2 separate regions of the Homo sapiens genome follow, and region 1 is linked to region 2. A link means that fine-mapping ties the variant in region 2 to the expression of a gene that starts in the linked region. Tissue or cell type: transverse colon. Region 2 holds a variant in brackets; the other region holds the start of a gene. All regions are shown on one strand. Distances are from middle to middle.

Region 1 (8,106 bases), 31 kb after region 2:
TCTATTTTATTTTATTTTGCTTTTTATAGCTATTGCAAATGGAATTGCCTTCTTGATTTCTGTTTTGGCTATTTCATTATTGGTGTACCGCAATGCTACTGATTTTTGTATATTGATTTTGTGTCTTACAACTATATTAAATTTGTTCCCCAGTTCTAAGAGTTTATAAGATCATATTACAACAAAGAAAAACAATTTTACTTTATATTTTCTCACCCGAATATCTTTTATTTAGTTAGCTAGGTATTTTTCTTGCCTGATTTCTCTGGCTAGGACCTCTAGTACTATACTGAATAGGAGTGGCAAAAATAGGTATCTTATACATGACATTCAGAAATGTGCACACATTATAGTGGTATGCTTCAATACATTTTTCTTGTAGGTCAACACATCTCTGAAGGCAGGACACATTCAAAGAAAGTCCAAAAAGACCAACACCACATGGTCATGGTCTCACTTGTATGCAGAATTTAGGCAAGTTGAGTTTATAAAAGTAGAGAGTAGAATGGTGGTTACCAGAGGCTAAAGAGATAGAGGGCAAACTGAAAAACGGGAGGTTTTTGTGAAAGCATACGAAGTTTCAGTTAGACACAAGGAATGTGTTCTAGTGATCTGTTGCACGGCGTGGTGACTATTGTTAATGTCTATTCCAAAATTGCCAAAAGAGTAGATTTTAAATGTTCTCATCAGAAAGAAATGATAAGTATGTGAGGAGATGTGTATTAAAACATAATGACGGACAAGGTTTTATAATGCCTTATTTTTGCCTTACATATTCCTGAGCATTTTTACTGACCATTTTATTAACAATAATTTTAATTTAATTTTAGACTCACAAGCAGTTTAAAAAATAACTCAGAGAGCCTCTACACATGGCCCAGTTTCCACCCATGGTTACATTTGGCAATTACAGTATAATATCACAATGATGATATTGATTTTGATATATTCACTATCATCTTTTTTTTTTTTTTTTGAGATGGAGTCTCACTCTGTCGCCCAGGCTGGAGTGCAGTGGCGCGATCTCGGCTCACTGCAAGCTCCACCTCCTGGGTTCATGCCATTCTCCTGCCTCAGCCTCCCGAGTAGCTGGGACTACAGGTGCCCGCCACAATGTCCGGCTAATTTTTTGTATTTTTAGTAGAGACGGGGTTTCACCGTGTTAGCCAGGATGGTCTCTATCTCCTGACCTCGTGATCCGCCTGCATCGGCCTCCCAAAGTGCTGAGATTACAGGCATGAGCCACCACACCCGGCCCTCACTATCATCTTAATATTTTCCTAATTTTACTTATACTGATTTGAGGAGAGTCTCTTGCTACAAATGTGTTGGACTTGCTGCTTGTGTCTGTATAGGACAAAGACTATGGAGCCACTGACCCACACCAAGAAGCCAAAACTCAAAAAGTCAGGAGAAAAGTATATAATTGTATATAAGGTGCCAAATATTTCTTGCATTGCCCAGGAGCAGACTCCATAATTGTTTTTCACACTAAGGTTTTTGCTGTTCAGTGGGCTGTTATTAAAACGTCAAGAAACAACAGATGCTGGCAAGGTGGTGGAGAAATAGGAATGCTTTTCCACTGTTGGTGGGAAGGTAAATTAGTTCAACCATTGTGGAAGACAGTGTAGCAATTCCTCAAAGACCTAAAACCAGAAATACCATTTGACCCAGCAATCCCATTACTGTGTATATATCCAAAGGAATATAAATCATTCTATTATTATCATTCTGTTATAAGGATACATGCATGTATATGTTCATTGCAGCACTATTCACAATAGCAAAGAAATGGAATCAACCCAAATGCCCATCAGTGATAAAGAAAATGTGGTACATATACACCATGGAATACTATGCAGCCATAAAAAGAATGAGATCACGTCCTTTGCAGGGATATGGATGGAGCTGGAAGCCATTATCCTCAGAAAACTAACACAGAAACAGAAAACCAAACACCAAATGTTCTCACTTATAAGTGAGAGTTGAGCGATGAGAACACATGGAGACAGGGAGGGGAACAACACACACTGGAATATGTCAAAGGGGTCGGGGGATGGAGCACATCAGGATAAATAGCTAACGCATGCTGAGCTTAATACCTAGGTGACGGGTTGATAGGTGCAGCAAACCACCATGGCACACGTTTACCTATGTAACAAACCTACACATCCGGCACCTGTATCCTGGAACTTTAAAAAATTAAATTAAATTGGCGCGGTGGCTCACGCCTGTAATCCCAGCACTTTGGGAGGCCAAGGTGGGTGGATCACGAGGTCAGGAATTCGAGACCAGCCGGGCCAACATGGTGAAACCCCATCTCTACTAAAAATACAAAAAAAATTTAGCCAGGCGCAGTGGCAGGCGCCTGTAATCCCAGATACTCAGGAGGCTGAGGCAGGTGAATCGCTTGAACGTGGGAGGTGGAGTTTGCAGTGAGCCGAGATAGCGCCACTGCACTCTAGCCTGGGCAACAGAGTGAGACTCTGTCTCAAAAAAAAAAAAAAAAGAAAGCAAAGAAAGAAAAAAAAATTAAATTAAATTAAAAAAAAAAAGGAAAATCTGTCTGAAAATTCTCACCAGTTACCAACACTTCTTTCTGAGGCTAGGAGGAGAAGGAGGTGGTATGTTAAAGTCAATAATCACACTAACTTTATACATACAAGAAGCTTTCAAAATAGTCATAGTAAAAATGGTACTTTATAAGGAGAAGCTGAAAAAATAGGAAACCAAATGCATATTGGAAATAAATTATACAACTAGGACAATGGAGCAAAATAAGAGATTAAAGCAAAGAATCAGGAACTATCTTGAAAATAAATGATGAGTTCATATAAATAGGAAAAACATTTGTCAACAAGTGGTTTGTGGGAATCTAAAAGGTTTTCATACCTCAGAGCCTGAGTTTTTTTTTTTTTTTTTTGAGACCGAGTTTCACTCTTGTTGCTCAGGCTGGAGTGCAATGGCATGATCTCGGCTCACTGCAACCTCCGCCTCTGGGGTTCAAACGATTCTCCTGCCTCAGCCTCCCGAGTAGCTGGGATTACAGGCATGCGCCACCACCTCTGACTAATTTTTGTATTTTTAGTAGAGACGGGGTTTCTCCCTGTTGGTCAGGCTGGTCTCGAACTCCCGACCTCAGCTGATCCACCAGCCTCGGCCTCCCAAACTGCTGGGATTACAGGCGTGAGCCACCTCTCGCCTGAGAATCTTGATACTGCTGTGTTATTGATTGCTCCACCCCTAAAGAGATGTAGTTATTCATGGGAGAAAATACCTCATAATTTTCCCTGATGATAGCAATTCCATAGAGACACCAAAAGAATCTAAATTATGGCCGGGCGAGGTGGCTCATCCCTGTAATCCCAGCACTTTGGGAGGCCGAGGCGGGCGGATCACGAGGTCAGGAGATCGAGACCATCCTGGCTAACACGGTGCAACCCCGTCTCTACTAAACACACACACACACACACACACACACACACACACACTAGCCGGGCGTGGTGGTGGGCGCCTGTAGTCCCAGCTACTCAGGAGGCTGAGGCAGGAGAATGGCGTGAACCCAGGAGGCTTCAGCCTCCCGAGTAGCTGGGACTACAGGCACGCACCACAACACCCAGCTAATTTTTGTATTTTTAGTAGAGACGGGGTTTCACCATGTTGGCCAGGATGGTCTCCATCTCCTGACCTTGTAATCCACCCGCCTCAGCCTCCCAAAGTGCTGAGATTACAAGCGTGAGCCACCGTGCCTGGCCGCAGTTACTATTTCTTTTGTGATTGATATATATGAATATTGTGCAATGAAATTCCCTCCCAATTGAATTATCTTTCCCTAAAAATAAACCCAAGCTTTCTGGAACATATTGAATTTCCTATTTAACAAGTTTTAAGGATATCTTAGGTGTTTCTGGGATTAGTATTTATTTTCAGGATCTTTTGCATTTACTTGTGAGAAATGGCATTGAGATAAAAATGTGTGGGCTCAAGGTGGTCATGGTTATTTCTACGGAGTCAATTCACAATCTCTAGACCTGTCCGGTGGAAAATAACAGAAATATATGTGCTTAAAATAAAATATACCATGATGCAATGTTGATTGTTCCAAAAATTATAGTTTTTAAAAATTCTTCAAGTTAGCATTTGTACTGTGCTGAAGGCCTTGTTACCAATTGTATTGTAGCGTTTTTTTAATTTCTTTTTTTTTTTTTTTTGAGACAGAGTCTCGCTCTGTCGCCCAGGCTGGAGGGCAATGGTTTGATTTCAGCTCACTGCAACCTCTGCCTCCCAGGTTCAAGCGATTCTCCTGCCTCAGCCTCCCGAGTAGCTGGGACTAGCACGCGCCGCCATGCCCGGCTAATTTTTGTATTATTAGTATTTTGTATTATTAGTAGAGACAGGGTTTCACCATGTTGGCCAGGATGGTCTCCATCTTGGCCTCCCGAAGTGCTGGAATTACAGGTGTGAGCCACTGCACCCGGCCTAAAATTTGTTTCAATGCATCAATAACAATGGTGTTTACTAAAATATTAGTGTGGAAAAGGTTTTATGGTGTATTATTTTTGCTTTTCATATCTCCAGGCTACTTAATTGAAGGTTTTATTGAAATAAGTGTAGACTCACAAGCAGTCATAAGAAATAATACAGAAAAAGCCCTGTCCATATTACCCAGGGTTCCGTCATGATTACATTTTGCAAACTATAGTATAATATCACTCTAATGATATTGACTCTTCTGTGTTCTGTTTTTATATATTTCCCTAGTTTTGCTTGTATTTACTTGTTGCATGTGTGTAAGCCCTGAGTTTTATAGGTTTGATTTGTGGATCTGTTGTGCGGTTGAGCCCTCATTCATTCACCTGCTTCTCTGCAGTTGGACACACAAGCAATTGCCTTTGCACGAACAGGGACAATCTTAATTTCTGTTTAAGATGAGAAAATATGGTTGGAGACACATTAAAACTTCTGTCTCCACTGATGACAAGATACTTCTTTCTGCTTTTTTATTCTACTGATTCTTCAGACCTCAATGAAAATCAACATCCCCTAGATTTTGATGAAATGGCTTTTGGAAAAGTAAAATCAGGGATTAGCTTCCTCATTCAGACTGGAGTTGGGATCCTGGGAAATTCCTTTCTCCTTTGTTTTTATAACTTAATTTTGTTCACTGGACACAAGCTGAGACCCACGGACTTGATTCTCAGCCAACTGGCCTTGGCTAACTCCATGGTCCTTTTCTTTAAAGGGATACCTCAGACAATGGCAGCTTTTGGATTGAAATATTTGCTGAATGACACTGGATGTAAGTTTGTCTTTTATTATCACAGGGTGGGCACAAGAGTTTCCCTCAGCACCATCTGCCTTCTCAATGGATTCCAAGCCATTAAGCTCAACCCCAGTATATGCAGGTGGATGGAGATCAAGATTAGATCCCCAAGGTTTATTGACTTCTGTTGTCTCCTCTGCTGGGCCCCCCATGTCTTGATGAATGCATCTGTTCTTCTATTAGTGAATGGCCCACTGAATAGCAAAAACAGTAGTGCAAAAAACAATTATGGATACTGTTCTTACAAAGCATCAAAGAGATTTAGCTCATTACATGCAGTCTTATATTTTTCCCCTGATTTTATGAGTTTGGGCTTCATGGTCTGGGCCAGTGGCTCCATGGTCTTCTTCCTCTACAGACACAAGCAGCAAGTCCAACACAATCACAGCAACAGACTCTCCTGCAGACCTTCCCAGGAAGCCAGAGCCACACACACCATCATGGTCCTGGTGAGCTCCTTTTTTGTTTTCTATTCAGTCCATAGTTTTCTGACAATTTGGACAACTGTAGTTGCAAACCCAGGCCAGTGGATAGTGACCAACTCTGTGTTGGTCGCCTCATGTTTCCCAGCACGCAGCCCTTTTGTCCTCATCATGAGTGATACTCATATCTCTCAGTTCTGTTTTGCCTGCAGGACAAGGAAAACACTCTTTCCTAATCTGGTTGTCATGCCATGAGTCTTTTCTCTTCATGGAATTCAGCTATTTATCATAACTCTTGCTAAGATTTAGGAAATATTAACTACTAGTTATTTGTGATAGCAACATACACATGGCCAGTAATGCTCTTGTCCAGGAAGATCTAATACCAGAGCTAAAAATGAAAGTCATGGATACTGTTACACAAAGAACACTCTATATAACTGTGTTAAGTCCTTCAGACAAGTTCAGGAAATCAAAAAGTTTAAAAAGGGAATTCTTTAGAGATTTAGGGGAGATTTCTCATTTTTGTACTATGAAGAATCATGGAATGTTTTAAAAATATTTTTAAAGCACAGTTTGATTCAGGTGCTTCTTGAACAGCATAAATCCCCTGGAGAGTCCACATGTAAGAAAGACATGTGCAGGCCGGGCACAGTGGCTCACGCCTGTAATCCCACCGTTTTGGGAGGCTGAGGCACTCCCAAATGCCTCAAGTGATCCACTCAAGATGACTTGAGGCCAGGAGTTCGAGACCAGCCTGGCCAACATGGCAAAAACCCTGTCTCAAATACAAAAATTAGCCAACCATGTGGCACACACCTGTAGTCCCAGCTACTCCAGAGGGTGAAGCACGAGAATTACTTACCAGCTTGGGTGACGGAGGGAGACTCAAAATAAAAATAAAAATAACTAAAAGTGGCTGGGCACCGTGGGTCACGCCGGTAACCCCAGCACTTTGAGAGGCTGAGGTGGGCAGATCACTTGAAGTCAGGAGTTCAAGACCAGCCTGGCCAACATGGTGAAACCCCATCTCTATTAAAAATACAAAAATTAGCCAGACATGGTGGCAGGTGCCTGTAATCCCAGCTACTCAGGAGACTGAGGCAGGAGAATCCTTGAACCCAGTAGGCAGAGGTTGCAGTGAGTCGAGATCCCACCACTGCACTCCAGCCTGGGAGACAGGGCAAGACGCCGTCTCAAAAAAAAAAAAAAAAAAGAAAGAAAGAAAGTGCTTCTGCACTCCAGCCTGGACAATAGAGCAAGACTATCTAAAAAAAAAAAAATTAAAAATCAATATCAAAATAAATGAGTATTCTCATAAGCAAGACAAGCCTAAAGAAATGTGAGTACTAACTGTAATGTGGTTACATTTAGAGACACATGAAAAAAAATAAATAAAAGAATAAAAAATAATAAAATAAATGCAATGTGGTATCCTAGGTGGAATTCTGGAACAGAACATGTATTTTGGTAAAAACTGAGGAAATCTCAATCAAAGATGTACTTTAGTTTAATAATGTATCAAAACTGTTTCACTAATTGTAAATAATGCTGTATACTAATATATGACTATATATTAGTAACAACTAGGTGTGCTTGTAAATGAGATATCTCTGTACTATATTTGCAATTTCTCTGTACATCTTAAAATGTTCTAAAATTAAAACTCTATTAAAATAGAAAAATAAGATTTTTTTTTAAAAAAAGGGAAAAGATTTAGAAATTTGGCCAAATATACAGATAACAAATAAGCATATAAAAACTTATTCAGCATCATTAATTATTAGAGAAATGCAAATTTAAAAACCACACTGACCACAACACATCTATGAAAATGGTTAATCTTTAAAATACACCATAACCATCATGGACAAGGAGGTATAACAAATGCAATTCTGCTAAATATATTCATATAAACACTTGTATATGAATGTTCATGGGTCTTTGTTAGTTTTTTAGTCCAACACTAGAAACAATCAAAATATTTATTAATAGATTAATAAATTGTGGTATATTCAATGCAATACTCTTCATCAACAAAAAATGAATACGCTTAACATGTATAAATATCAAAAAATGCTCCATATGAATGTAATGTAGGATTTCATTTGTATAAGATACTAGAAAATTTATAGGCCGGGCATGGTGGCTCACGCCTGTAATCCCAACACTTTGGGAGGCCAAGGCAGGTGGATCACTTGAGGTCAGGCGTTCGAGACCAGCCTGGCCAACATGGAGAAACCCCCGTCTCTACTAAAAATACAAAATTAGCCAGGCGTGGTGGCGCATGCCTGTAATCCTAGCTACTCAGGAGGCTGAGGCAGGAGAATCGCTTGAACCCAGAAGGTGGAGGTTGCGGTG
Region 2 (8,106 bases):
GCAGAAATAAAGAGGGCTAGCTCTCAGCAGGGAAGGGCCTGCTGTGCAGTGCTGAATCTGGCCAGCTCAAGGATTTGGGGAGGCCTCATGAGCACCAAGGATGCAAGGATGGGGTATAGCACAGGGAGGAGAGGCAGTGTCCCCAACACAATCCTCTGCAAATGGCTTTCCACAGGACTTTGGCTGCTGGAGACACAGGAACACGGCACAGAAGGTTATGTCCAGGTCCAGAAAAAACCAACTGCAACCAAATAGCTGATGCTCAAGGACTATGCAAGGATAAGCATCCACCTCACCACACATTCAGTGAAAGCCACTGCTGAAGGGTTCTGCTGATGACTGGGTGAAACATGGAGGACAGAGAGGTGGGGAATGGCCCTAGGTCAAACATCAGAATAGATATAAATGGGTGACTAAGGAAGAAAAGATAGAAATCAGCGACAACCCCTTGCCTTGGTATCAAAATATCTGGGCCTACTGGTATGATATGAATCCATCCCTGAGTTCACACCTCCCTGAGCTCCACCCACCAACTACCTCTCGGTATGGCTGAAGTCACAACTTCCCAAGCAGGCATGAAGGGCTCCTCCCATGACTCCAGCTGGGTTATTTCATGGGTCTTGGAAGATGCAAGTCCTAAGGAAAACGACAGGTGAGTGGCAGCACTGAGCCAGAATGACTTATCTCATCATGGACCACAGGAAAGAAAACAAAATAGTACAGAAAGAACCTTGGAGGAGGGTCTTGCAGGAACAACACAGTCAAACAGCAATCACATTGGTGACTCAATTGCTGGCACAGACCGACACCCAGGTATGTTGGCTAGAGGAGACAGGCAGAATGTAGGGGAATAGAACTACCACAGATCTGCACAGTGTCACCAGGCCACAGAGAGGCCACCAGGGATAAGATCCATCAAGCTGACTGCAAGACTCCTGACCCCCAAACCCTTTCCTGCACAGCTGTGGGGCAGCTTGGGGAGAGAAGGTGGTAGTATACACAGCCCAGGCCTATTACAATAGCTACTTCAGGATACTGGAGAAGGAATGAGTGCCCACAGTTCAGCTTTGGGAAGAACAGACCTCTCCCTAGGAAAAGGAGGAAAAGCCGAGCCCAGCTCAGGATGCTGGGGTGGGGTGTGAGAACCTTACCCAGAGAGGCCAGAAGTGTAAAGTTCTCCAGCATCACATTGCGGTAGAGGAGCCTCTGAGCGTCATCAAGCAATCTCCATTCCTCCTGGGAGAAGTAGACAGCCACATCCTCAAAGGTCACATAGCCCTGCTAAGATGGACAGAGTAGAGTTTATCTGCAGCCTCCTTACTGGGAAATTTAGGCATCTGCCTAAACATCCACCCCTGCTCACCCTCTTCCTTAATCCCCATCTCAGAGGAGAGACCCTGCCCCAGAGCCACTGATGCCCACTCTCTCCTCATGCTCCCACTGAGCAACAATAGGCAGGTAGGCAGATAAAGTCCATCTCAGCTCTGGGCATGGTATGCAGAGTCCTACTCTTCTCTTGCCAGACAATTTACCTTGGATCCCCTAGACTGTGTTTCTCAAATACAATCAAATTTGTGTCAGTGTTCTCCCTGAAGCCCCCAGTACAAGGTCCTGGGGACATCTGTTTACACTTATTAGAATGTGCACATACTTTGTACCACAACCACTACCCTCTACATCACCTCATGTGCTTCCCCTAGTGTCACCACATGCCAGTCTACACATGGCATCCAGAGGGCACTTACCAAATGCAATCAGAACTCCGTGCCATCCCAGACCCCCAATGGCACTGACTGCCAGGGCCAATCCTCAGCCCCACTTTGAAGGCCTCCCTCCTTGGCTCTTTTTCTTGCTTCATCTTTAGCTACTTGGAATTGCACACATATCAGGACACCTCAGCTCAGCTCCTCAGCCAATCACTTCATGTTGGCCTTATACCCGCTGATGCTTCCCCCAGACATAATGGAGATCTGAGGTTGTCTAAGCATTCCCAGCTCAACCTTACCTCCATGTATTTTCTAATGTTGATCACTATGCCTTCTAAACCTCCTGTCATTGGTTGCCAGAAATGAGAACCTCTCCATAGAATACATAGTCTGGGTTGGGCACGGTGGCTCACGCCTGTAATCCCAGCACTTTAGGAGGCCAAGGCGGGCGGATCATCTGAGGTCAGGAGTTTGAGACCAACCTAACCAACGTGGAGAAACCTCTCTACCAAAAATCCAAAATTAGCTGGTGTGGTGGCGCATGCCTGTAATCCCAGCTACTCGGGAGGCTCAGACAGGAGAATTGCTTGAACCCAGGAGCCAGAAGTTGCAGTGAGCCGAGATCGCGCCTTTGCACTCCAGCCTGGGCAACAAGAGCAAAACTCTGTCTTAAAAGAAAATAATAAAAATAATATATAGTCTGGACTCAGGGCCCTGACTGTGTGTGACCATCTTCCAGGGAACTCAAATGGAAGGGTAGGGAGAATAGCCAGCAAGGAGCCTCAAGACACCATAATTCTGAAGACCATGTAGGTAGGAGTGCAGGAGTGTGAGGACCTGAGACATCCTCCACTTACCTCCTCATGGTCTGTAAGCAAGTCTGCAGCCACAGGAACCTATGGAAAATCAAGACTATGAGAACCAGACAGTGATGTTGCCAAAGGATCATCCAAGCCCACTCGTCTAGCCTGGAGTCAGGTGTGCCTGACTATCTACAATCTGGGCTTTGGTTCTTAGTGATGCCTCTTACCTGTTGTGTGCCCTTGGAAAAGTGCTCAACTTCCCTGTGCCTTGGTGTTGCCATCTGCAACATGGCAATAATAATGGTATTTACTCAATAGGACGATTGTTTGTATCAAACTCATTCTTATGTGTCTAGGACTAAGTATCAACTCTTACTGTACACATAATTAATGCTTCTGTCAACATTTTCAGCGCAAATAAACTGGTAGGTTTTCAAAATGTGGGTTTCTGGCTAGGCGCAGTGGCTCACACCTGTAATCCCAATGCTTTGGGAGGCCGAGGTGGGCAGATCGTCTAAGGTCAGGAGTTTGAGACCAGCCTGGCTAACATGGTGAAACCTCGTCTCTACTAAAAATATAAAAATTAGCTGAGCGTGGTGGTGCATGCCTGTAATCCCAGCTACTCAGGAGGCTGAGGCAGGGGAATCGCTTGAACCAGGGAGGCAGAGGTTGCAGTGAGCAGAGATTGCACCATTGCAGTTTAGCCTGGGCAACAAAAGCGAAACTCTGTCTCAAAAAAAAAAAAAAAAAAAAAAGAAAGAAAGAAAGAAAAAGAAAATATGGGTTTCTTAAACTTACTTTTAAATTAAGAATGTGATACTTAAGGTGCTTTATTTTAATCAAATACTTTCCAGTATACTAACTTTACAACCAATTATGAAGTGCTTACATCAGTTTAACTTAATAAATCCGTGTTGTTTTATTTGCCCCTGTGTGTATATGAACTATGATCAATTAGTGCTTAAATACTTACCTCATAAATTCACAAGTTAATAAACTGGGACCTGGGTCTGAGAAACCTGAGCACATACCATTCCTTTTGGCAACCTGGCTGCCTGCTATATACTCCCCTGAAGACCATCCTGCTGAGAGCCCTTCTACTGGAGCAGTTGATCATCCCTCCTGTGCTGACGGCTAGGGAAACTTAGGCACCAAAGGGGCTGCTCCAGCAGCCTGGCTGACGTTTCCTTTTGTCCATACGGACTGTACATGAGGAACTGCTGAGCCTGGAGTGGCAAACCTATATACTACTCAACACTGCAGTCTCCATGCAGTCCTGGGTCTTCATACTCTATAACCCTCCATTCCGGCAGACACCAGACAGAACCACTTCTGACCACAAAACTCCATGCTATAGAGGCAGCCCCGTCCTACAGGGCCATCTCTCCCTTCTCTCACCTTAGGGCCCATCTGAAAGGGAACCTTAAGATTCTCCCTCCTAAATAGGAGCCCCAGGACTTACCCTAGTCCAGGCCTCTACCCAACCAGCCCATATCTACCATATCTCCAGCCCAGATCCCTCCCCAAACTTCCAGATGTGAGTGGGCAAGCTGCCCATGTGGACACGACACCTCCACTCTGGGTCATCTCAGGATTACCATGTCCAAAACCTACTCCCTGCACAGCCTTACCCATCTCCATCCTTCCTGATATTCAGGAACAAACAAACAAAAATACAAATAAAAATCCAGAATGGCTCTTCATTCCCTTTCTTTCAGTCACATCTGATGCAACAGGAATTCCTGTCTGTTCAGTTTTTGATATCCATCCAAGATCTGATCACTTCCCCTCCTCT[G/A]TGGCCCAGTCCCAGTAGACTCTCCACTAGTCTACTGAATTTACCTACTCACAGGTCTGTCTTCACCCGCCTCACCCCCACCCCAGTCTGTTTTGACTTGAAGGGCCTTTGGCAAACTTTGAGAAACAGATCTTGTCACTCTTCTGTCTCCAGCCCTCCGCGGCCACTGTGGCCCCCTCAGGATGAAAGCGCAGCTGCTCGGGCTGTCGCTCGACACGCGCCTCGTCCCTTCCCAAGCTGCCCACTACAGACACCAGGAGGCCTCAGGTTCGGGACTCGCTGAATGCGCCTCACATCTTTGCGAGCCGGGCCCCTTGCCCTCCATTGCCACCCCATCACACTGCGTGTCAGAAACGGGACGCCGCGCACGAACGCCCCACAGTTCTGCACCCGGGGACCTGAGCAGGCGGCCCTCACAGGGCTTTAGGATTCGGGGGAGGCCAGGAGGACGCGGCGCTCACCTGAGCGGGGTCCCTCAGGGCGGCCGCCGCCATCGGAGCCTGTGAGTAGAGCTGGAGGGGAGACAATGACCGAGGAAAGGGCCCGGGCCACCCTGGGCGCCGCCACCGAGCCTCAGACCCGCCTCTGAGCGGCGAGAACAGCGTGAGTCGCCACCGTGCCTTCCGGCGCTGGTCGCCTCAGCGCACAACCAGCTTCTCGCAGGTTAGTTCACCTGAGTCGCGAAAGTGAATACCAAACGAGACGCCGGAAGTCCCGCCCATTGCGTGTCGCACGCTCGGGCAGACCTCTTTTCATTGGTCAGGGATCGCCGCCTCGCGGCGCTGCGCCTTTTGGGCAATGTAGTTCCCGTGCCTCCAAACTTCCAGGAAGTGGGCATAACTTCGGAGATGGAGATTGGAGATGATAGATGATGATGGAGATGGAGACGGAGATGGAGATGATGATGGAGATGGAGATAACGGAATAGGAGATGGAGGAGAAATTAGGGTTGAGAACTTCTCTCGGACTCATCCAGAAACTGCTGTTTTTGGAGATGGGCCTGGATTTCAGTTTCCTGCAGCTGATACCCCAATCTTTCCTTCTTTTGAAGGAATTGAAGAGGATCTTCAGGGCCACAGTAAAGAGGTTTCTCTGGGAAGAGCCACGTATAGATCCCCAAATTTCCTTTGACAAAAGGACACCCAATATTAAAATTAACGGTGGCCAAGCAATGCCTGATGTATGACAATAAGAAAAGGCTCTGAATTCTGGATGTAGGTGATGAGAGAGTATGGGAGCCCAAGGATTTACTTTCCTCCTTTATCCCATGCTCATTTGTGCTCCTTCCTTCCTCAAAGACCCAACATTGGTGTACAGGCACAACAATAGGCGGCAAACCCATGAGGCAACTCCCCCTCCATTTCTCTCCTTCATCCCTTTATGCTCCATGTTCCCACTGCTCTTCCATTTCCAAATATAAAGCCAGTTCCTCACAGGTGGGTAGAATGCTAGACTGTTGTTTACAACACACAACTATTGATAAAAAAAAGATGTCAACCCTTTATTATGTGTAGTCCCACTACATCCATTCCCATTGAATCTAGTCCCCTCGTGTCAATCTAATTTCCCTACTTCTTTTCCTGCCCCTTCCATCTGTTGGCTGAATAATGATCAATTTCAACACAGCATTGGAGTGACTTATGAGGACAAGAGAAAATGAAGCCCTCCCTCCTTCTTGGAGCTTTCTGGAACTGGGTGTTCAGTACTACTTGACTCTGAAAAGGAGGAGGGGAGTCAATATTGGGATTGAGAACATGGTAGAATAGAGAGAGACACAAGCTCTTTACCCCTTCCATGGCAGCTATGGCATTAGTTATTTCAGTTAGACCATTATGTGGCATATGGAAGGGAGGGGAGGAGGAGAGTGAGGAGAGATGAGTCCATGACAGGAGTGGGACAATATGTAAATAATATCCTCCTTCTGAAACCAAGCACAGGAATAAATGTTTCACTTCCTTGAGAACATCTATTAGAAGAGCAGATTCTGGATTAATCATCTAATAGATTATGGAAATTAGCTTACCATCATGACAGGAACCTTTGTGGACAAACCTAAAAAACATATTATAGAATCTAGTCACCCATACAGTGTAAAATGTATAGAAAATTCAGAATCTGGAAATAAGAAACAGTATATCATTTAGGAAAATATATGTATGTAGTAAAACTATAAAGACATTTATAGAATGATTATCAAAATGATTAACAAAAATGTCATGCAAATGTTAGCTTAATGGGGTGTATCAGGCATGTGAGGTGATGTGAAAAGAAAGGATGCCTAGGAACTATATTTTTTAGCCAGGCGTGGGGGCAGGTGACTGTGATCCCAGCTACTCAGGAGGCTGAGGCAGAAGATCACTTGAACCTAGGAGGGAGAGGTTGCAGTGAGCTGAGACTGTGCCACTGCACTCCGGCCTGGGTGACAGAGCAAGACTCTGTCTCAAAAAAATAAATTAAAAAAAAAAAGAAAGAAACTATGTTTTATCACTACTGGTTGTTTCACAGATGTGGTTTTAATTAAAAAACAAACTATACCTCTTTTGAAAGTTGTAGTGAATTGTGTGATAGTTTTGAAATAAAGAGTATATGTAGACATTTTAATTTTATCACAGGAAGAGACAACCCACTAAAGCAGGCTCATATGTAGAATTGCAAATAACATGACTGGTGAGGACCAAGTAGACTATCTAATTATTTGGTTTAGGTAAAATCATTATCTACATAAGAAATTCACTTATATCTCATTGAATTCACAAAAAAATCCCATGAAGCTATTTTATTTTTTAAAAGCAACATATGCCGGGTCTATATGTTTTCTCTCTAACTTCTGGAATCTATTTTTATTTCCAACCTTTAGGAATATTTACATGTCTATAAGGAGTGTGAACATCAAAGTTTGAGTCCAAGACTCTACCTTTGGCCATATCTCCTTCAGGGCTAGCAAGCACATTCCTCTGTGTTTGGGAAGTCTAACCCATCCAAGATGGCATGAAAAGCAGATGCACCTCAGGGTCTAATCACAAGTCAACCCTCAACACATGAGCAGCTGCAGGGAATGAGGGAAGGCTGAGGGCTGTAACCAACTAAACAAATTTTGATGACATCTCCTGCCCTCCCCAAGGTTAGAGCTTAACGGAAGAAGTCACCACCCAGCAGCTCTGGAAACTCTGGACTTCCATGGAGATGGCTACCTGGTCCTCAGACACTTGAAGTCTGGTCGCCTCAGCTAGAGAGCCAAGACTAACCCATCTGAACTATCCTTATAAGGAAAAGTAGGCAGGGAGATGAGGCCACAGGATGGGAAAATATAACCATTTCCTCAACGAGGAAGGAGACTAATATTTCAGAAGAGCAGTTCTGCTCTACAACAGGTAAGCAGCCCTATGTCCTGTTATTGCCCAAACATAGTCTTATGCTCAAAGACACCATCCCAGCAGATGTTGGCTTGGTGATTATAAACTCTTCGGAAGCTCCAGTGGAACTGAGGAACCACGATCACCAACTACTCAAGAGTACAGCTATTCCTAACCACTACAATCATCTACTCTTCCATAGATACCACATCTTTGAGACTTACCTGGATGTCCTTGCTCTGCTGAACACTGACTCACCAGAAAATGACTGAAAATACTGAGAAAAAGTTTTTTCCTCTGCTCATACCACCCAAATACACCATTCTCTCCTCCCAGGTCAAGCCTTGAAAATATTGGTCTGGTTTTGTAGAATTTGCCAAGTCCACATTCTACCTGGAAACTGAACCTAGAATGGTAAAAAAACAGACAAACATAAATAACAAATGCCA

Evidence for each region. PIP is the estimated chance that this variant, and not a neighbour inherited with it, causes the effect.
Region 1: it holds the start of VN1R1, and the variant in region 2 is fine-mapped to the expression of VN1R1 in transverse colon (GTEx, PIP above 0.99).

The regions. Positions count from the first base shown.
Region 1 is chr19:57,453,319-57,461,424 of GRCh38, reverse strand. VN1R1 (vomeronasal 1 receptor 1) reads left to right here and starts at 4,285. Exons shown (of 1, transcript NM_020633.4): 1 at 4,285-6,635. The coding sequence starts at 4,939. The coding sequence ends at 6,000. It also overlaps the pseudogene VN1R107P.
Region 2 is chr19:57,484,643-57,492,748 of GRCh38, reverse strand. It overlaps ZNF419 (zinc finger protein 419), which reads right to left and starts at 4,999. Exons shown (of 5, transcript NM_024691.4): 1 at 4,766-4,999; 2 at 2,564-2,602; 3 at 1,152-1,278; 4 at 538-636. The coding sequence starts at 4,798. RefSeq lists an enhancer at 4,711-5,211. The variant G/A (reference allele first, on the strand shown) is at 4,305.